Linked DNA regions of Homo sapiens: all the other regions are linked to region 2. The links come from fine-mapping of genetic effects on gene expression. A gene starts in region 2. Each other region holds a variant in brackets. All regions are shown on one strand. Distances are between the middles of the regions. Region 1 overlaps LINC02268 (long intergenic non-protein coding RNA 2268). Region 2 holds the start of LINC02268 (long intergenic non-protein coding RNA 2268). Region 3 overlaps LINC02268 (long intergenic non-protein coding RNA 2268).

Evidence for each region. PIP is the estimated chance that this variant, and not a neighbour inherited with it, causes the effect.
Region 1: its variant is fine-mapped to the expression of LINC02268 in nucleus accumbens (GTEx, PIP above 0.99). The same link has a PIP of 0.9 or more in prefrontal cortex.
Region 3: its variant is fine-mapped to the expression of LINC02268 in cerebral cortex (GTEx, PIP above 0.99). The same link has a PIP of 0.9 or more in anterior cingulate cortex and caudate.

What each region holds. Positions count from the first base shown.
Region 1 is chr4:174,102,390-174,109,232 of GRCh38, reverse strand. The region is part of intron 2 of LINC02268 (long intergenic non-protein coding RNA 2268); the gene reads left to right. Among named protein-coding and RNA genes, the nearest start is that of LINC02268, 110 kb to the left of the region's middle. The variant A/GCA (reference allele first, on the strand shown) is at 3,294.
Region 2 is chr4:174,216,810-174,223,652 of GRCh38, reverse strand. It overlaps LINC02268 (long intergenic non-protein coding RNA 2268), which reads left to right and starts at 3,255. Exons shown (of 5, transcript NR_125896.1): 1 at 3,255-3,339.
Region 3 is chr4:174,115,136-174,121,978 of GRCh38, reverse strand. It overlaps LINC02268 (long intergenic non-protein coding RNA 2268), which reads left to right. Exons shown (of 5, transcript NR_125896.1): 2 at 1,893-2,082. Among named protein-coding and RNA genes, the nearest start is that of LINC02268, 100 kb to the left of the region's middle. The variant A/C (reference allele first, on the strand shown) is at 3,029.

The DNA of each region.
Region 1 (6,843 bases), 110 kb after region 2:
GGGCAGGAATTAAAAAGATTAAGTGAAAAGCAAAATAATGGAGAATAAAACAACTTGATATACTTTAATAAAATGGTAGTTTTTAACTATGAATATACAGTTGTAAATCAAGTATTAATATTAAAAAGGGGGGCAATTCCATATCAAAATGCAATTGGCTATGCATGTGGAGACTTTCTTAAAGAGAGTGTCAGATTCAATTGCATTATTTTCCAGTGGTGGAAGATAGCGGTTGATAAAAAGGTATAAATTGACAGGTAATTTTATTCAGAAGTAAACTTATGCTTCTATCAAATTTAAATTGCTTAGCAACAACCAGAATAATTTCGACTGATAAGGTTATTGTCTTTTCTTCTGCTGGTATGTTGCTGTCTCTCATATTTCAGTGATAATTCTCCAGTTCACGGCTGTACGTGTGGATGATCAAAGAGAAGCATTTTAGCTCATGTATGGTACAGCTTCCTTTAAAAGTTTGCTCCAGCATTGTCCAAGCCCTCTTTGGTGACCTAAATACCCTCCTAGGCTAGATTACTCATTTCCATGGCTTCAGCTACTATCTGTCCTACCTAAGTTTTCCAAACTATATTTCTAGATCACTTATGTCCCCCAAGCTCTAGCCCCTCTTCCTGCTTGAATGCCTTATAGGCGTCCCAAATTAAACTTCTGTTCTTCAACCCCTCCTTTCTTACTTGGAACCCTGTATTGGTTCATGGCCTTAGCACCCACCTACTTGCTCCGGTGAAATCTATGAGTTGTCCTTGTTCTTTCCCTTTCCTTCCGTTTCCAGTGTAATCCATCACAAATTCTTCAGATTTTATATTACTAAATAACTGCTACACATCACCCCAGTCCAGGTCACTGCCTTCTCTCACCTAGACTAGGGCAACAGCCTCCTGATCTTACAACAGCAGCATAAGGATGAGATGCTGCTGGCAACAACGAGGTAGGGGTGATTGCAGGCTCCTTTGAGTTTTTCCCGAGTATGCAGATCACCCCAGCAGGAGCTCTTCACCCTAATAGCAGTGGGCTCCAGCCTCCCTGCAAAACCCAAAACAGCCTCACTGTGTCCCCACAGATACCATCAGGATCTGTTGGCCAGAGTCCCTTGCTCCGAGGTCTAGGTTCCAGCTCTGGTCCCTCCTCCAAGCTTCTAGGTTCTAGTAACCCTATTCTCTTCTCCTTGTACTCCTAGCCTTAGGGATTCCTGTTTCTTGAAGTTATAGTCTTTTGTTGTCTCATGCCTATGAAGCAATTCTCAATTCTCTTTGTTAGACTTACCAATGTGGTTTTCCTGTTTCTTACAGACTTTGGCCGATAACACCCTCACGGCTCCAGACAGATAGGATTTTTAAATTCCTCAGACTCTTTATCGTTCTGCTTCTTGAGTTTCCCACACTCAGTTCCTTCTGCTAGAAATGTTTTCTGTTCCTGTTCTCCTTTCAGCTCTCTCACCCCTTAACTCACAGCTTTTGCCTAGGCAACCCCTTTTGGAATGCCACTTCCTCAGGGAGACCTCGCCGACCCTCTAGACCAGGTTGAATCTCCACTCATCCTTCCTCCTCCTCTGAAACCAATCACACCACTTTCTTGCCTGATGTCCGTCTTCTCTCCTGATTTAAGCAACAAGAGGGCAGAGAACATATTTTGTTCCTACCCAGTACCAATTTCTATGCCAAACATATTGTAGGCAATCAATGTTGATTATTGATTAAACTTAGTTTCTTATAAGCAGAAAAATATTGGGTAAAGTTTTTCAGCTAAGGATATAATTTTAGATTTTTTTCCCTTCTCATTTTAGCAATTCCAGGTATATGGGCAAAGAAATGTGAGACTTTTTTTTTTTTTTGTCTTGTAGGGACTTTATTTCACTCATAATCTCCGTCAGGGCCCCCTCCAACTCCTGGTACCAAGTTACTCTAAATAAATATATCCTGTAAGCAAAAACTCTGCAAATACTGTATCAAGGAAAATTCCCTAGTTTTCTTTCCACCTAAAAGATGACCCCTATGCCTCTCCTTTGGAAACATTCTGGAACTGCCACTGCTTTTGCTTTTGGACTTTAATTTCCCACTTGGCTGTTGTTTCTGTTACGTGCTATTTCCAAAATTCTAGCTCATACACTTTTTCTAGAGTCCTACAAGCATGAAGAAGTACTATTAATTCAGTTGAAGCATTTCTTTTTTGTTCATTACCTCACAAGATGACTTTTGCAGTTAAAGGTCCCAGTAATTTCTTTAAAATTTACAAAATTGTTATAATATTGCTATATTAATGAGAATAGCCAAGAAAATATTGTGTATCTCAAAGAAAGTGATTTTATGACTGTGGACAGAAGTGTTTTCACAAAAAAACTAGAAAATGAAATCATTTTGTTTGGAGCAGCTCTTCCCTTGTCTTGCCCCCCATTGCTCCCCAGTAGCTGCGGTCAGCCCAAGCCCATCACTGCCTCATGCCGTGAAGACTGCCCTCCCAGGTGGTAGGAGTTTCCCATCCTCACCTAAATCAGTTACCTGTTCTTTGCTCCACCTTCTCTCAGAAAAATGAAATGGAAAAACTAATACAGATTAATAAATTAGTGGCTACTGAGGGCTAAGGAAATCAATTTCAGGTAAAATATGCATCTAAAATGGAATTTTCTAATCTCATCATATCTAAATTGTGCCTTTTGAATGGTTTGTATTTCTTTCAATAGCAGATAGCAGATATTTAACACCTCTGCTTTATTATTGTTTTGTAACAGACTGCAGAGGTTTAGCAGTACTTCCAAATATCTTGTATTTGATGGTGATCAAATACTGTATAGCTTCAGAGTCCCATATTTCATGTGCATTGCCTTAACTCAAAGGACAAACTCCAACTGTGTGTTGTAGATATTTGGGGGCTGAGGTAGCCTTGGAGCTAATGCTAGTATTTGCTTACTTCACCTTTGAATAAAATCTTCCAAGAGAAAGAATCTTGAGTAATTACTCACACGTATTCGCAATGAGGTTCCCACCTGAGTCTTCGCCTTTCTGGTTAGGCAGAAGGGAGTATGTTTTCATGATACTGTCACTTACTGATCTGCTACTATGTGCCAGGTGATGTTCAAATAGTCTCTCATATAATCCTGATAGTACTGCCATCTCTAATTTATCTTTGAGGAAATTGAAGATTAGACTGATTGAATAACTTCCCAAAGTTACATGGTTAGTGTAGCCGCTTGACTGGAATTTCGATTCAGACCCTCTTTGAGGCCACCTTCCTGGCCCTCTTGGTCCTTCTGCTTTGTCACTGTCTCTTCACTTTTTAGAGGC[A/GCA]CAGTTTTATTCACAACTAAATATATTACTTATTTTAATGTATCTTTTAGCTTAGCTTTTTGATAGGACTCAAGATCACTTAATGGAATTCTGGCCAAACTCTGGTCTGTACATCCAAGTATCTGTTGCTTACATTCTTAAAGATGGGGCTTTGGGAATTTTATAGGCCTTGGCATTTTATAGTATAAATAAATTTTGCTCTGAATGGCTTCAGCGAGAATAAGCAGACTATTTGCCTGCTACCTCTATTCTGATCACTGTAATCTGTTTTGGAAACAAAGAAACAGAAAGCCCTTAAGCCTATGTAGCATGTCAACCCATGTAAACTACCCTTTATTGTTCTTCAGTGATGTGTAAATACACATTGAGGTAAGAAGTTCATAATGTTAACAAATTAAGTTTCAAAAGCATTTGTCAAATTTAGGACTTATTAAGTGGTATAGTCTTAGTCTTAGATGAAGTTAAACAAAATTCTTTTCTGGTAACTCCAGTAATCTTTTACCTGGACAGGAATTTAGATTCATGAAGCTGTAACAAAATGTTCAGTACTCAAGTTCCCAGTAAACTTTGAACAAGAGGCAGTGAAGTGCCGTAGCTGGTTCACACTGGCTCACAAGAACAGATTATTAAATAGTCAGGTATTTTGTGATCTGGTTGTTAAAGACAGCCAATAATGAAAATTGGAGTGGTTAAACTTACAATTAAATAAATTATACCAAAAGGAAAGGTAATAATCAAAATTCACTAGTTTCTAATTAACTTACATCATAATATTATCTGTGCTCTTGAGATTATTTATAATTATTGTGTCCGTCTGGTGGAAATACTATATAATGCTGTGCTATTGCATATCTCTTCCAAACTCCGTGTTCAGGGATTTTGGTAGCTTAAATTCTGTCATTGTGGGAGTACTTAAACCATGGAAATCAGCAAACACTAAGAATCAAGCCTTTAATATTTATTTATTTATTTTTGGTAGTCTAGACTTGAGGAAGCTATGGAAGAAATGTTAAGAACACAGATCAAACCTAAAAGGATGTGGATGTTGTAGCTGTAGCTGCTACCTTGTGAATAGCACACAATTTGATGACATATCCTTCCAGTACTGTTTTTGCAAACTATTATCTGATTCAGCAAAGGAACACATCCCTGATACATGAATAAAGTTCCAACATACTTTGACGTGTTTACTTTCACCTTGCTTGTTAAGGTAAATGGAATATTAGCCAACATTCACGTTGATACCGCATTCATTAATTGTAAAAAGATTGATTATGGATTTAAGAATCTGGCAAAAATAAACAAAAGCCTTCTGTGAGAATAAATTGGCTATATAAAATGTAAAATAGTTTTAGGTATTTCATTATTACTTATAATTTGTATACTATACATTGTGTATATTAGTAAAATTTATAAGAAATAATAAACACAGGTATATTATATATATATATATATATATAATATATACATATATACATATTTATTTATTTCCCTTTTGGAAAGCCTGGCGTTAAGCCTGGCACACGCACCAGCACACCATTGACAGAAGCCAAGCCTTATTTTGATTCCAATTTATTCTCTGTGAATTGTAAAGTCACTGCCTGCCTTTAGAGGGCTGAGGCTTGTCCTTGCCACTGTTAATTAATGTGTTCATATAATTAGCTGAAGAAATACAAGTGCTATAGAGACTATGGGTAGAATCTCTCATGGCATACTTAAAAGTCTTCTGAGTGTTAATGGATGATTTGCCCAGAATGAACAAACACCTACCTCATTCTACAAATTTTTGGAAAACTTCCTCCCTTTTGGAAAACATGTAGTATGGGCTGTCTATGACATCCAAGAGAGTTTCATATTTCAGTTGAATTTTGTTTCCCTCTGGATATAGTTAGTGAGTTAAAAAAATAAGTGAAATTTTTCGAAAGACTTACTTTGAAAAGCCTTAGAAGTTTTTGTTATCGCGGTCAATGCTGAAAATCTTGAGCAATAGAGTCTAGAAGGGAAGTTTTACCTTTTATTTTAAGAACGTGAAGTTCCTGTCTTTCTTTTTTATTTCTTCTCTCTTCTCTTGTAGCTTCTGTCTCTTTTTCTTGTATTTCAGTCTTTCCATTCTTTGGAGATTTTAATTGAGAACAGAGGCATAGATAATCCAGAGATACAGGAGAATTCGTGGAAAGTTAGAAAAAATCGGGCAGAGAACAAAGTATAACTGTAAACATTTTATTGTTTTAGATATTTAGTGTAATGGGGAATTCTAAAATAACATCTGAGTCATTATCTTCGAAATATTTCTAACTTATTTCTGTACTGAAAACCATTATTACTTTGAAGATTGTAGGTAACATGAAACAGTAGGAGTTATTTCTAACACTAATCAATGACTGATGAGAAGGCTCCATCCTGTTCAAGATTTCACCTTCCACAGGTTCCTATGGTGATTCACCCAAGATTAATGAGGCATTTTCCACAGAAACTGTTAGACTATGTTTTCGCAAATTTCTGAGATAGGTTGTGTGTGGCGGTGGGGTGCAGGAGGGTGCGCACCCCTGTCTGTCTCAGAATGTTTATGCACAAACATTCACAATAACTATCTTGAGAAGCCTCACAAGAATCTGATTTTCTTTCTGGCTATTTGTGAAATGTTTTGTTACATCGTAAGGTGTGAGGAAACTTTTAACGACAGAGAAGCTAGGTGCTCATCATATGGCCAGCAACAAACCCCCCTTTTGTTTATTTGGCTTTATGAATCTAAATACTTATGATTGTCTCAAGACTCGAGTAATCAAATAACAGTCTTCATTTTCTCTCATTGATAAAATTATCCAGCAGATCTAAAGAGATCATCTAAAGCGATAAAAAATACTGTTATTATGCAATTGAACCACCTAGACTAATAGGATGTTTGGTGTGTGAAATCTAACAGCAAAATAGATTTAAATTAAAATGAAGTTTCTCACTACTATAATATTCAGGAAATTTTCTAATATTACGCTAGAAAAAGTTCCTGCTATGAGAATATTTCTGAATATGAAATCTCTTTTTTTAAAAAAATTCCTGTACCTTAAGTTCTAAGAGCAATATTAATCTTTGCTGGAAATTATTTTCATTTTATTTGGAATAATTTTTTCAATACATATTCTCTTTTTGCTTTCTATGAAATAAATCTATTACCTGAAAGTTTGGTACATTTCAAGTTGAGGCATGAAACTGAGATTAATTTCTCTTAAGAAGCCTTTGCCCCCACCCCCACTGCCCAGTTTTGTTGCTCTAATTAATGATAAAAAAAAACAAGTTTCCCATGTTTTCATTGATGTAGATTACATACTTGCTTATTTTTAAATTATTCTACCTATAAACTTTGCTGGCTTGAGATCTGTGACATATGATCTTAACTCATCCTTTTATCTTCTAACCAGGATGGAAAAGTTTTTCTTTTGCTCCTTATAACAGTGGTGGTAAATCCAAAATAAGCAAGAATTCTGGTTTCTAAGAAAACGTTGCTCATGAGCCTTCCTACTGCATCTAACTAGGATAGGCTTTCAGTGTTATA
Region 2 (6,843 bases):
TTAGACACACAGTCTTGTTGGGGAGAACATTTTCACAAAGAAAAATATTTATCTCTAAAATCTCACTTTATTTATGTATTTTTAGAGAGTGGGGTCTTGCTATGCTTCCCAGGCTGCTCTTGACCTCCAGGGCTCAAGCAGTCCTCCTACCTTGGCCTCTCAAGTAGCTGGGACTACTGGTGAGTGCCACCATGCCTAGCTAATATCTCACTTTTGGATTAGAGGCTACTCATCTGAAAACAAAGATACAGATTTCATATGTTAGACAAGCACAGAAAAATCTCAAACTCTATATTTAAACAACCCTACAAGTGTTCTACATCCTGTATAAACCATTTTTCAAAGACGGAAAGATTTTTTTTCTTTAATCTCTTTGGGAGATCTAAAGATGCATAAAGATCCAATTTCATTGAGAGAAAGAACACAATTCTTTACCAAAGAAAAGGTGTGATTAAATGAAGTAATTGTGTTTCTTTGCTATAAATGTGAGATCTCACTTAAATGGTCTCTGAAAACAAAATACATGCATAAAGGCCCAATTTCACTGAGAAAAATATCACAATTCTTTTCCAAAGAAGAGGTCTGATTAAATGAAATAATTTTATTTCTTTGCTATAAATGTGAGATCTCACTTAAGTAGTCTCTGAAAATAAAATATATTCATAATTGCATGTATGTACATATGGGCATATGTGTTTGACTACTTATCAGCATGGATGTTATTGTAAGATGTTAGTGTTTTGGACACTAACCCCCCACATCAGCAAATCAAAGTGTGATATCTAAATTGATCTAGGTAAATTTGAATAAAATTGAACCAACGCTTTGTGGTCCTTCTGCAAAGCCAGATGTTCAGACCCTTAGGCAGATTTCATAATCCACACATCTGGGGGCACAGAGAAATATAGGGAGGAAAAGAGAAAAATCTCTTAAGGTAAGCTGGGGGATCTTGTAGATGGGCCACTAGGGAACACAGCTGGCTCTCTTCTTGAAGAGATGAGCCCCAAGCAAAGAATGCTTTGTAAAACTGAACACAGAGTGAATCCTGACCGTTAGCTATTAACTGTAGAGCTCAAAAAGAGACTTTACAAATATCATTACAAACAAAATATGGTGGAAATTTTCATAGAAAGCCACATTCTTTGTACCAAATTTTGCTCTGCAATAGGCAGTCACTTTTGCACACCTTGCCACCTAGTGGATAACCTGAAACCTACAGGATTTTTCCCCTTAATTTCCATGCTCTGCGGAAAAGTTCCCCAACTCTACCAAGGGAAGGTTATTTTGTTTGTTTTAGTCATTGGTGCTCCGAGAATTGTAGTAAACAGTCAACAAATAGTTGTTACATTAATAATAAACATTAAGTTGAGGCATACTTCATTTAAAAACTATTGTTATGGGGAATGTAATGGAAAAGATAGACAATATGATGTTGGCAAAATGTGTTTCCTAACTGAAATGAAAGTTTTGAATTATTTCAAAAGCAAATGCTGGGGGATCTATAGTTTCCTGTTAGAGATGTATCTACATAGCACATCAGGAAGAGGAGCCGGGCGCGGTGGCTCAGGCCTCTAATCTCTGCATTTTGGGAGGCCAAGGCAGGCGGATCACTTGAAGTCAGGAGTTCAAGACCAGCCTGGCCAAAATGGTGAAACCCCTGTCTCTACTAGAAACACCAAAATTAGCTGGTGTGGTGGTGGGCACCTTTAATCCCAGCTACTCAGAAGGCTGAGGCAGGAGAATCTCTTGAATCCGTGAAGTGGAGGCTGCAGTGAGCCGAGATCATGCCACTGCACTCCAGCCCGGGCAACTCCAGTCTGGTCAACAGAGTGAGACTCTGTCTCCAAACAAACAAACAAAAAACAAAACAAAAGCAAACAACAACAAAAAGAGATGTCATTATTGCTCTGTGTAGACAAATCATCCAGATAATTTAATTTAGCCATTGAGAGCCTACCCTTCTTTCTTCCAAGATATCCCAAATAAAACTAACTGTAAAAGCAAATATCCTTGCTCCTTTGTCTAGACACCATTGCTACTTTCATTCTTGCTTTGGGCTGTGATGCTTGCTACTCCCTTTTTCTGCTGTCCCAAATTATGAAGCCCTTTTATTCATTTAAAAAGAATACCTATGCATATGTATAAATATATATATATATTTTTCCTTTTTCTAAATAACATTTTATTCATTTTGACCATGTGACTCATTCGTATGGTCAATGAGCCCAAGGTGTTGATGACTCTTAAACATGTTTCTCCTAGCATAAATATTGGTGGCAAAAAGCAGAATAATGATCATAGTTTTGAAATAGAGAATACCATTAATGTCTTTGATTTTTGAAAATGATATTTTAAAAAACAAACATGACTATGTCGTGATACCTTAAAATTCAGGCTGAAAACAATTTATTAGGTAATCCACTTCAGGTTTCTTTTGCAGGAGGATTATTTTCCATTTTCTTATGGATTATTTTCCATTTTCTTGCTAAAATCAGCAAAACATATATACATATAACAATATACCACTAGTTCATTAAAAGAACTTATTCTTTTTGTTCTCAAATCAAGCTCATTTTAGATTGACAATATCTTAATGCATTTTAGGAATATATTGTCAAGATTAAAATCTTACTTTTTATTAGCTGAAGTTGTATATATTCATTATATAAAACTGACTTATGTTGCATAGAATTAAAACCCTCCCCAGAGTTCATAGTTTTAAACAAATATGCATACATATCCAAATACATATTAAATCCAAAGCAAACAATAACTTTATGTTGACAGTGAAAAATGCAACCTTACATACATAGTCTACAAAACAACTGAAAAATTTTAAATGCCAGATATGAGGAAGCCAAAGAATTTTAACAATGAGAAATATGTTATGAATTAAAATATTCAATCTTGAAAACCTTTAAAAGTGAAAGTTGCACTGTAACTGCTTTCTAAGGTAATTTTTGCCACTTTTAGGAAAAAAGATGTTTACGTAACATTTTTAAAAGTACAATCATTTCTTACATAGCTTTATGATTGAGGATAACATTAGTATGCACATACAACATAACACACAAAAGCAAAGCTTAGAATAACATTTTAATTATGTTTTAGTGTATGTGAAATAATTTGTTTTTCTCAATTATATTCCTGGGTCAAGGCCTAAAACATTTATTTGAACCAGCTATATATCTTATTTTCATAAGGGTCTCAGGAGGCAGTAGTCATATGTTGTTACTTCAGCCCTCCACAAAGGCAATACAGTACAGATCTCTGTACTGTAAACGACAACAAGGACCAGTCACAATTTCAGTTCTTGTTACATTGATAAGACTCCTTCAGGTAAGAGATTAAAACATGCCTTTATTATTATAAGGTTAGTGACCATTTTAATGGAATAAAAAGATTATTCCTGTTGCATTGGAGATAGGAAATTTGGGATGTGAATGTATGAGGTAGGTGTCTTTTCTCTCTTGTGCCTGTATTGTTCAAAAGCTCTTTGACATTAGAAAAAGGTTAGCTCTATAATCTTAATATTAATATTTAGTATAAAATCTATGGAGAACACACATTATACAGGGAGCCAAAAAGTTCAACTCTTTTTTTAATGGAGAGAAGGTAAGTAGGTGATCTTCACAGACTAAGAGGTTTTGCCTTTTAACACCAACAACATAATACTATTTATATTTGCTCTATCATTGTGATTAACCTACCTTCCCCTTCCAAAAAAACACACTTAGCTTACTCACCTAACAGTAATGACATATATCATTTTAAAAACAAAGAATAGTTTCAAAATTAATTTTTTCTACCTAATGTGCGTGACTGATGTTGAAAAGTTAGTGAGGGTTACCCATATATTCACACATGTAAATTGTGGAAATAAGAGAGAGAGAAAAAACTCAACAGATATAATCTGTAAAGCTGTCAAAAGACTTTCAAATAGCGAATTCCTTCAGATCATATATTTCAATAGAAGTTGCTGTTTAAATAGAGGTCTCTCATTTGGTGGGAGGAGCTTTTAAAAGAAAAAATACTTGAAGATAAGTAATATTACCTTTGCCATTTGTTATGAAATAAATATATCATGAGGAGTTATGCTTCATTAAAATGTAATACTTATAGATGACAGTTTCATATGGTCAGATATAAAATGTATATATGTTTTACCAGGAAGATTATACAGTATTTTTAATCTTGATTTTTCATGACTTCTTGCAAATATGCATTTATTGCTTTCCAAACCATGCCTGGGAATGAAGGAGAAAAAATTGTTTTATCCGAAGAGTTAGCTGTTCTTCCTTGGTTCAATCAGGAGTAAGTTCTGATATCATAGAGGGGAATGTATTAAGATAATTCCTAAAATATAACTGTGCTTTTACTGTTTTGCCTATGCTGCCAGAAAGTTAAAAACATTTTGTTTCAAATAACTGTGTATGTTTAAAAGTCAAACCTATTATTTGCTATATTATTTGTCATGTGCTATAATTTGACAGAGGGGCAATATTTCTCCAAAAAGTAAAATTTTATAACCAAAGGCCATCAATTGTACAAACGACTAAGAGAATTAAATTTTATTAAGTTGGAAATGTAATTTATTCATTGTAACTGTTTTAAGAGAAATTAAGTGAGCACTTTGTATGTAGTTATCTTAAATGTTACGTGTATTCTTTTAGAAACTCTTTCTTGTTTTCCTTCTTTTCACCTTCAGTGTCCTGGCACGCGACTAGCACAAATCAAACCTTATCTGTCATAATAAACTATAGCGTTGGAAATTCTAAAGAGACTAAAAATTACTTAACGTCTTTAACATATTTGAAGTAATATTTATGAATAAGGGAGGGCTGTCCATTTTTGAGTTTCGTCGCGCCAATGGTTGAGGGATTTTCTCATTATCATCTCCTGATTCCCAGAGAAGAAAGCCAGCCGCGTGGCCTTAGGACCCCTGGCCACCGGGAGTGGAGGAGCGGAGGGTCTGCCCCAGCTACCCCTGTGGCCACCGCCTCTCCCTCCAGGTGTGTGTGGGGAGGGGGCTGACAGAAGCAGGAGGCGACTTGCTGAAGTAGGGAGGCCAGACTGAATTTTTCCAGGATTCCGGGACCTTATCTCTAGGAAGCACTTAAGGACTTACTATCGCATTCTTTATCTCACTGTCTTCCGACTGCCAGGCTGGGTGCCCAAACTTTGGCGGCTTTTTCACAGTTTCAACGGCAAGGGTGGGAGTGGGGCTCGGGAGCTGGAGAGGAATGGCACGTTACGCCCCGTTCGGTTTCAAGGCCATGATTGCATCGCTCTCTGGAACGAAGATGGCCAGGAATTCGGGCAGGGAGAGGAACCACTCAATGGCAAAGTTGGTAGTAACGTCGTGAATTGTAAAGAGGGATAGCCCTCTCCTGCAGTCTCCAAGCAAAACCTTTTTCGCAACATGGGTGCCTGTCCAGCTTAATTCTTTGCTATCTTTCTTACTCGTGTTTTTGTTAGGGGACCGTTATAAAGTGAATTTTTGAACTGCTGGGTTGAGAAATAAACAGGGAAGGAACTGGGAAGATTCAAATTAGCTTCCACCGACCCTATTAGAGGTCCCTGGGCAGGAACCCCCCTGGCCACAAAATGTCCCGCAGGAGGTCTGCCTGGCGGAGGCGCTGCCTGGCGGAGGCGTGGGCTCAACCGAGTGGGCGCTACCACCGCTGGCTTCGGAGAAGCAGCCTGCGGAGAGCGGTAAACCGCAAGGGAAGCGCTTCAGGATCTGATTGCTTTTTAATAAAAAGATATGTTTGTAACCAGATGGAACCATTCTGGCTCCTTTATCGAGAGCGCAGCTTGGCCGCTTGCCTGGCCCTGGGGCTCTGGCCACAGCCTCTGCTGGGTTCTGGAGGAATTCAGATCTAAAAATAAATGATCGGGGATAATTCTTCCCCGAGGCGAACGGCTCGAACTCCCCTCCTCCACCCGCCACTGTCACAGCAATTCACCTTGAACTCTAAGGCGGATCGTTCCCACCTCCGCTCAAGGGGCCTGGACGCGGCGGTGGCTTTGCAGCCTCCTGCACCCGGAGCTCTGCTGGGCATGCTGCAGCCAGGACCCGCACCAGACTGCTCCAGGCGCCCTTAGGGTCCTGCCGGCTGGGTGGAAGTCAACACACTTTCAGTTAACCGAGGGGATTGAAATTGGATCCAATGAGGGAGGAAAAGCTGAAATCCCTGCTCTCTGGAGCTGTAGAGCACCAGGTGGGGAGACATTGCAGGTCAGAGGATAAGTCCTCTGCATTAACTGCGGCGCAGTTCCCTGTACGTCTAGCAAACTAGGTTTATGGTCTACGTGGGTCACAAGCGCATAAATCATTGTCAGCCCCGACAGTAGGTGCAGAGCTCTCTGCCTCGCTCTGGCCACACCAGCCTTTAGACAGGCTAACTGAGGGGGGGGCTCGGCGCGAAATTTCCCAGCCTAGAATATTTGCCTCGAATCTTTCTGTCCAAGTCTCCGAGACAGCTCCAGAATATGCGCTTGCCCTTTTGATAGACCCGCAAAGGGCGCGGTCTGGCAACCAAGCGCATCTGTTCACTATGGCCTAATGATTGTCCTGCAGTCAAAGAATCCAAGAGGGCATCATCTGATCTTATTTTATGCGTGAGGAAACCTGACGCTATCCAGGTTAAAGTGACATTGCACGAGGTCACACAAAGCTCTGGTAAAACTCCTTGATCCTAGGTTTCTTGATTCTCGCTCTCACACCTGGCCCCATCCATCGTCCTGCCTCAAATATCCACTGTGTTGTAGAGATACCAGGATCTGAGAATGCCTGTAGAGAAGGACTCATTATTTGTTGTCTTTGCAATTTACTAGTAC
Region 3 (6,843 bases), 100 kb after region 2:
GGTTTTCCATCACATTTGGAATAATGAAAATATTATGGCTGGGCACGGTGGCTTACACCTGTAATCCCAGCACTTTTGGAGGCCGAGGTGGGTGGATCACGAGGTCAGGAGTTCGAGACCAGCCTGGCCAACATGGTGAAACCCAGTCTCCACTAAAAATACAAAAAATTAGCCGGGCGTGGTGGTGGGCACCTGTAATTCCAGCCACTCGGGAGGCTGAGGCAGGGGAATCACTTGAAGCCAGGAGGCAGAGGTGGAAGTGAGCCAAGACTGCACCATTGCACTCCAGCCTAGGCAACAGTGTGAGACTCCATCTCAAAAAGTAAATAAATAAATACATAAAATAAAATAAATAAAAAAGAAAATCTTATATTTTAAGAAAATTTTATTTCTTTTTGAATTAAAACAAAATGTTCACACTTTAGTCGCTAAGTTACAAGGACAGATTAGTTAGTAGGAGATTATGTATTCTGGATAGCCCAGATTAATTGTTGCTTTTAATGCCCTTTCTAAATCTGATTCACAGATGTATATCATTATGGATGTATATTATTAGTGAGAGTGGGAGAAAGGGGCAATTATACTTCACAATGTCTGAAAAATATTGCTACATAATTCCAAACTATTTCTTTTTCTCTTGGAGGAATACTTTACTTGATTTCAAAGGGGAATTTGTGGACATTCACGTAAGTTAGAAAAATACATCACAAATATGCACCACTGCAGTTCACAGAAGTTAAGAATTGTAATCTAGGGACTCTCAGCAGCAGACATCCAATAATGCAAAGCAGTAATAAAGAAAGGCTTGCAATGAAGCACGGACTCTGTAAAATGTGACTGGAATGAGGCTGAAAGTGTAGAAGGCATGTTGTGTCATCCGGCGTTTAATCAGTGAAGATGGTGGCCTGACTTTGTCACAAGGAACTGCATTAGATAAGAGTACCCTGATTATGTGGTCTATTGCATACTTTGAAACATGGAATTGAAGAGCTAAGAGTTCATCTATTCTGGCCCTTTATGGAGGAAACTGAGCTCCAGGGTGGTTAAGTGACCTGGTCGAAAGAGAAGGAAAGATATCCTGCTTCTGACTTCAGGGCTCTTTAAAGTTCATCATATTTCTTAATGCCATTGGTGGATGAAAAATTAAAACATAGACCTGGTATTTACATTTTAACTACTGTGTAGTTTGCCAAATCAAGATTCCACTATGTTAATGAATTCATCTGATTTTCTAAAGAAAGGCAAAGTCGCTTTGTCGAGTTAAAAGGAATCAACTTAATTTCCGCCACTAGGTGGCATGATGCATTTTTTTTCCCCCTCTGGACACTTTTTGAAAAGGAATCTATCCCTCTCCCTACACCACACACACACACGCACGCACGCACACACACGCACGCACGCGCACACACACACGCGCACACACACGCACACGCCCGCGCACACACTCTCTCACACACACACAGAGATTGGAGAGAGACAGGAGAGAGACATGTTTTCATCTATCCTTTGTGGACTTCTGTTGTTTTTACTGCTGTGAAATTTGACTTGCGATATCTGCTTGTAAAACATCATCAAATCCAAATTCATTATATTCCACTTTTTCTATTACATGGTTTCTGCTTCACTGATTCATATCTGTTTTACCTATTCTGTAAGGGAGGAGAAGCTGCGTTAGGTTTCATCTCTTGTTTAAGTTCAGTTTAATAAATAGTAGATAATGCCTCTTCTCTTTTTTCCTTTTGAAGAGGAGAAAAAGGAAAGAATTGTAGTTGATTCTTATGTAGCAACTTATTCATTCATTCAGTAGCTATAGAAGCGAATTGTTTTGTAGGTAATTATTAACGATGCTTTGGATAATTCCCTAGCTAACTATTCCTTCTTTTCCATCCCAGAAAGCAATGAAGAGAAAAGCTGAAGTCAGTGATTAGGAGTGTCTGTGTAAGTAAAAGCAACAGGCAATTACTGAGTGTGGTGTGAGAGGCACGGAAAGATTGGGAATTCAGCAAGAAGAGGAATTGAAGTCAAACCTCACCTACTTCCCAGAGTCTTCTGGATTTTCTGTTAGAAGCTTCAGTATCTGAGGTAAGGAAAAGAAACTGCAGGACTTACAGAATATACCCTTTCCTTTCCATCCTCTGTATTACTTAATAGGTATTTTGCTTTGTTTTCATTTTTTCATTCCTCCTCTTATCTTCTGCCTTAATTTTCAACTCCATATTACTAAGTGGCATGGTTTTCAAGTTTTCTGTACAGTGTTTTACTATTTTAAATAAAAAAAAATTTTTAGTTTTAAATTGATTTATTTTTCTTTTAAAATTTTAGATTCAGGGGCTACACATGCAGGTTTCTGACATTGAACCCATCACCCAAATAGTGAACATAGTACCCAAAGGAAGTTTTGCAACCCTTGCCCTCTTCCTCCCTCCACACTTTTGAAGTCCCCAGAGTCTACTAAGAAACATCTTTTAGAAAGTAAACAAGCAAATACTTTTGTGGAAGAGCCAGACACTTCAAATGAATTTTGTTCTCAATCCCATCAACATGGGTTTTTAAAAACACTAATACACAGAATCACTCCTGACCAATGGATTCATCATCTCTGGGGCTGAAGGAGGGGCAATTGTATCTTTTCAAAGATCTCCAAAATATCTTGATGTACCCTGAGAATGGAGACTTTCTGAAATGCAGCAATATGCCATGTGTCATTTTTTTCCCTTTAACCAGCATCCTGGTCTTGCGCCATTTTCCTAGTGACTCATGCTTGAAACACAGCCATCTTGGTTCTCCCCTCTGTTGTTCTTGTGTGTAGTTAGTTCCTAAGTTCCGCGTCTTTCATCTCACTAATGTTTTATATCTTTCCACTTTGTCACATCGCCATTACCATCACCCCAATTCAAAGTTTCCCACCTTTCTCTTTTCAACACAGATGTATTTGACTTCTTTTTCCGATGTTTAAATTTACAATTTTTGTTACACTTTGGAATCGCAAAATAACAAGAGAAAAAACATTAGGAGAGGAGAAAGTGAT[A/C]TTATCATGAATAATAAAACTCTTGTTTCATGTGTAGCACAAATGAAAATCACCCCCAAATCTTTTTCTTCAAAAGGAAGGAAAATCAGCATCTGAGAGGGTTGAAAAATAAGTTCATTTTTTTCCCTTGCAAAGTTACTGAATTGCCACCTACTGGTTTTACTATAAGAGTAAGAGCTATATATCTCTTGTTCATCATTGTATCCCTGGGAAAAGCAAAATGTCTTGTTTTATTAATTAAAATTTTATTAGTTGCAAGTAACAGGAGCCATCCTGACATAGCTTATACAAAACAGGTAATGTATAGTTAAGCTATAGAGCACAGTGGTAGAATTCAGGCTGGTCTAAGGAAATAATTGCAGACAGGCCATGGAGAGGCTTCAGGGTTTTACGTTTTGGGGGTGCTTATTTTATTTTTCCTCTTTGCTCTATACTTTTTTGGGCTTCTTAGGTCAATGTGGCATTACATAGCTGCCAATGCTTTCAAGTAGGTAGAGTACAATTTCAGTCATGAGCTAGGATGAACTAGCTATTTCCTAGCAACTTGCCTGGGGACCGGATCTAACTGGCCCAGCTTGAGTGAGATAATGTACTCTGGTCAAGTCAGCCACAAGCTTAGGCACTGAGACTATTGTCGAAGGTCACCCCTTACGAATGGGGAGTTAATGTGAGCTGGGAAGATATCCCAAAGGTGTCTAATGCACTGACAAATGGCAAAGATGCAACAGATATTTTGGATAAATAAATGAATAAAATAATAAATGAATGAACCAAGAGACTGTTAGTTTTGGGTAGCATAATAAACTCAGATTGACAGATAAAGAGCAATTCATTAGGCATCTACTTATTACCAGAGGCTGTAAGGAATAAAAGCTGAAAAAAAAGAGGAGTTCCTGACTTTAAGGAACTTGTCAGAAGAGGTATCATTAACAAATAAGGAGAATATAGGCAGTGACAAGAAAAACACAAAATATTATGTATATTCTGTCAACTGAGAGATCATAATTTTACTTACATTAGTTAAGATATTGTCAGCTGCTGAGGAACTGAGAAATCTCAGTGGATAAACACAGTATAATATTTTATGCTATGTAAAGTTCAATAGGACGGAGGGCTGGGTTTGGGGTTTGGGGTGAACAGGAGGGCAGGATCTACCGCATGGAGCCATCAGGAACCCCAGAACTACCACCTCCAGCACGGACTTCCGCCACGATCATACTGCCAATCAAATGCAGCCAGCACAGTGAAAGGAAATACCCATACAGAGGGTATAACTACTTCTGCGGACAGCCCATTGGTCAGTCTACTTTCACATGGCCATACCTTACTAAAAAAGAAAGCCGGGGACTGTAATCTTGCCGCATCCAGGGAGAAAGGCAGTAGTGTTTTGGGAATTGCTAGCCAGTGACCACTATAGCAGCATTGTAGTTATGGCAGAGTGGGTGGGGGAGGAATAATTTTTAAAAAATTATGGAAGAAATGCTATAGTTAGACCATCTTTGAGGTGTAGGTCTTAACTGTTGGAAAGAGAACAGCAATTTTTGAAAGAAAAAAGTAATGTAGGCAAAGATCTGGAGTTGGGGAATAACTATGTTTTAGGAGTGTTGAATATGAAATAGCTGTCTTGAAAGTATGATAAGAACTGAAAAGGTAGTTATCTTTATTTGGCTATTTCTTTTGAACATATCTTTCTATTAACTTCAGCACATCAGTTTATTTTTCCAGGAAGTGGATTTTGGTTAAAAATTATGCTGATAAATAGTGAGGAGAAACAAAAGTTTGGAGGAAAAGTAATAAAAACTTGATATAAGTATCTATACTATTTCTTGTCTTCCTATTCTGACCTTCTGCATTCTAAATTGAAACAACCACTCTAATTTTCTTTGTAAAATATCAAGTTGGCTTGAAAATTGTGTGTAACAGCAATACAAATGTAGTTTTCAAAAGCGGGGTTTAAATCAATAAATATTAATATATTTTTATTTTTATTCCCTGCATCTCTTCTTTCTTAAATCAAATATATTCAGACTAATGTATTCATATGTTAATATTATTTTTTTCTGGGATGGCATTAATTTCAACTAAATATCTTAAGAGAGTAATGGGAGGGTTTTTTCCTTCTTGTTCAGAATTTCTTTTAAATCCGACATCTGGTATTTGGCACTTGACTTTTACTAGACCAATTGAGCACTTTTAAAGGGGAATAAATCATATGACTTTCATTTTAATTTTTACTGTAATGGTTTAATGCAGCCAACATATGCTGAGTAATAGTATTAAAATAAAATCAGTAAATGAGGGATTAAAATTTGCCTGAGTTCAGTTTTGCAAAGACACTAATTAGAGAAAGGTTTTTCAGATCAGAATTGGATAAGCCAGCAATTTTTTAAAATTGTAATAATATACTGAGAAATATTTGGGTTTGAGCATGCTGTTATTGAGAAGGAAAAATTACAAGGGAAATTAACACCTTTGCTCTAATGCGAGGCTGTGGGGTGAATCTGGGAACCCTTGCATGCCCGTTTCTCCACTGCCAGAAAGTATCCAGACAAACACTGAAGACCAATCCACATTTGCTTATTTTAAACAGAGATACTAACTTGAAAACTGGAAATATTTGAGTTGGACTAAGCAGGATGGAGATTTCTTGACATCATAAGGAGCATTCATTTAAATTTCTCATTTCAGAAACTTGAATACTAGAAAGGCTTTCTATCCCACGCCTTACTTTTTGGCAGCCAGCCAGTTATTTTCTATGGTTCTAGTTATTGGGGTACGAAACAGTTTGCAGAATTAAGTTAGAATTTTATTTATAGCTTTGAAACGTCTAGCTAAATGTTCCTAAATATGGTACTTCTTGGTAAACAAATAAAAGCGAAATTATTTCTACATCAAAATTGAGCAAGGAGAAAATTAATGGGCAGTATTTAGCAGTTTCTTTAAATTTCCTTCAGTTATGAATAGCATAAATAAGAAAATTAAATGGGTTAGTCTTACTACAGAGACCTTAATTCTAAATACTTTGGGTTCATATATATGACCAATTTAATTAAAGGAGGTTTTGACCAGCAACCTAAAACATGCCATATCATACTATAAGAAATGGGTTTTCTGACTTGTTAGATAATCTGGAAAGGTGTTGTTCTGATTAAAAGGATAAAAGGCTTTTCTGTTCTGTGAGGTATAAAAAGGAATTCTTTCAATATCATGAATAGAACCACTCATGTCACGTTCACTTAGTGGTTTTCAATAAATAAGGAACATGATTGGTTGCACTTTGCTATTTTTAGACATTCACTGTAGTATAATTTCTTTATATTACAGAAATCCAGAACAGGATAAATCAAATCACCGGTTCAGTGTGCTAAATTAGCATATTCAGCTCTTGAAGAATTTATGGAAAACGGCTTTCAAAATGCAAGCATGTCTTTGTTCTCTTATATTTCTTCAAACCAGTCTCTCATTCATTTCCAAATATCTAACATTTCAGATTCATTTTTGCTTTCATTTTTTGCTCTCTCCTTTTCTAGACAATGCCAAGCAGACTGGGTAATATAGGAGAAATCTCAAGAAGTACCATGAAGTAATGCTCATCTCAAGACTTCTGCTGTTTGCCAATTTTATTTCTTTTCTTCTTATTGAGATAGTAATTCCCACTATGAGATTCATTAGAAATCAGGCATTAAGGTTGGAGTCTTTCCTTAAAAGATATTAATATACACAATAAGAAAGGAGGTATTGAGGCTGGTGTGTTTCTTCTGTTTTTCAACTTCTTTTTTTTTTTTTTGAGACAGGGTCTCACTCTGTCATCCAGG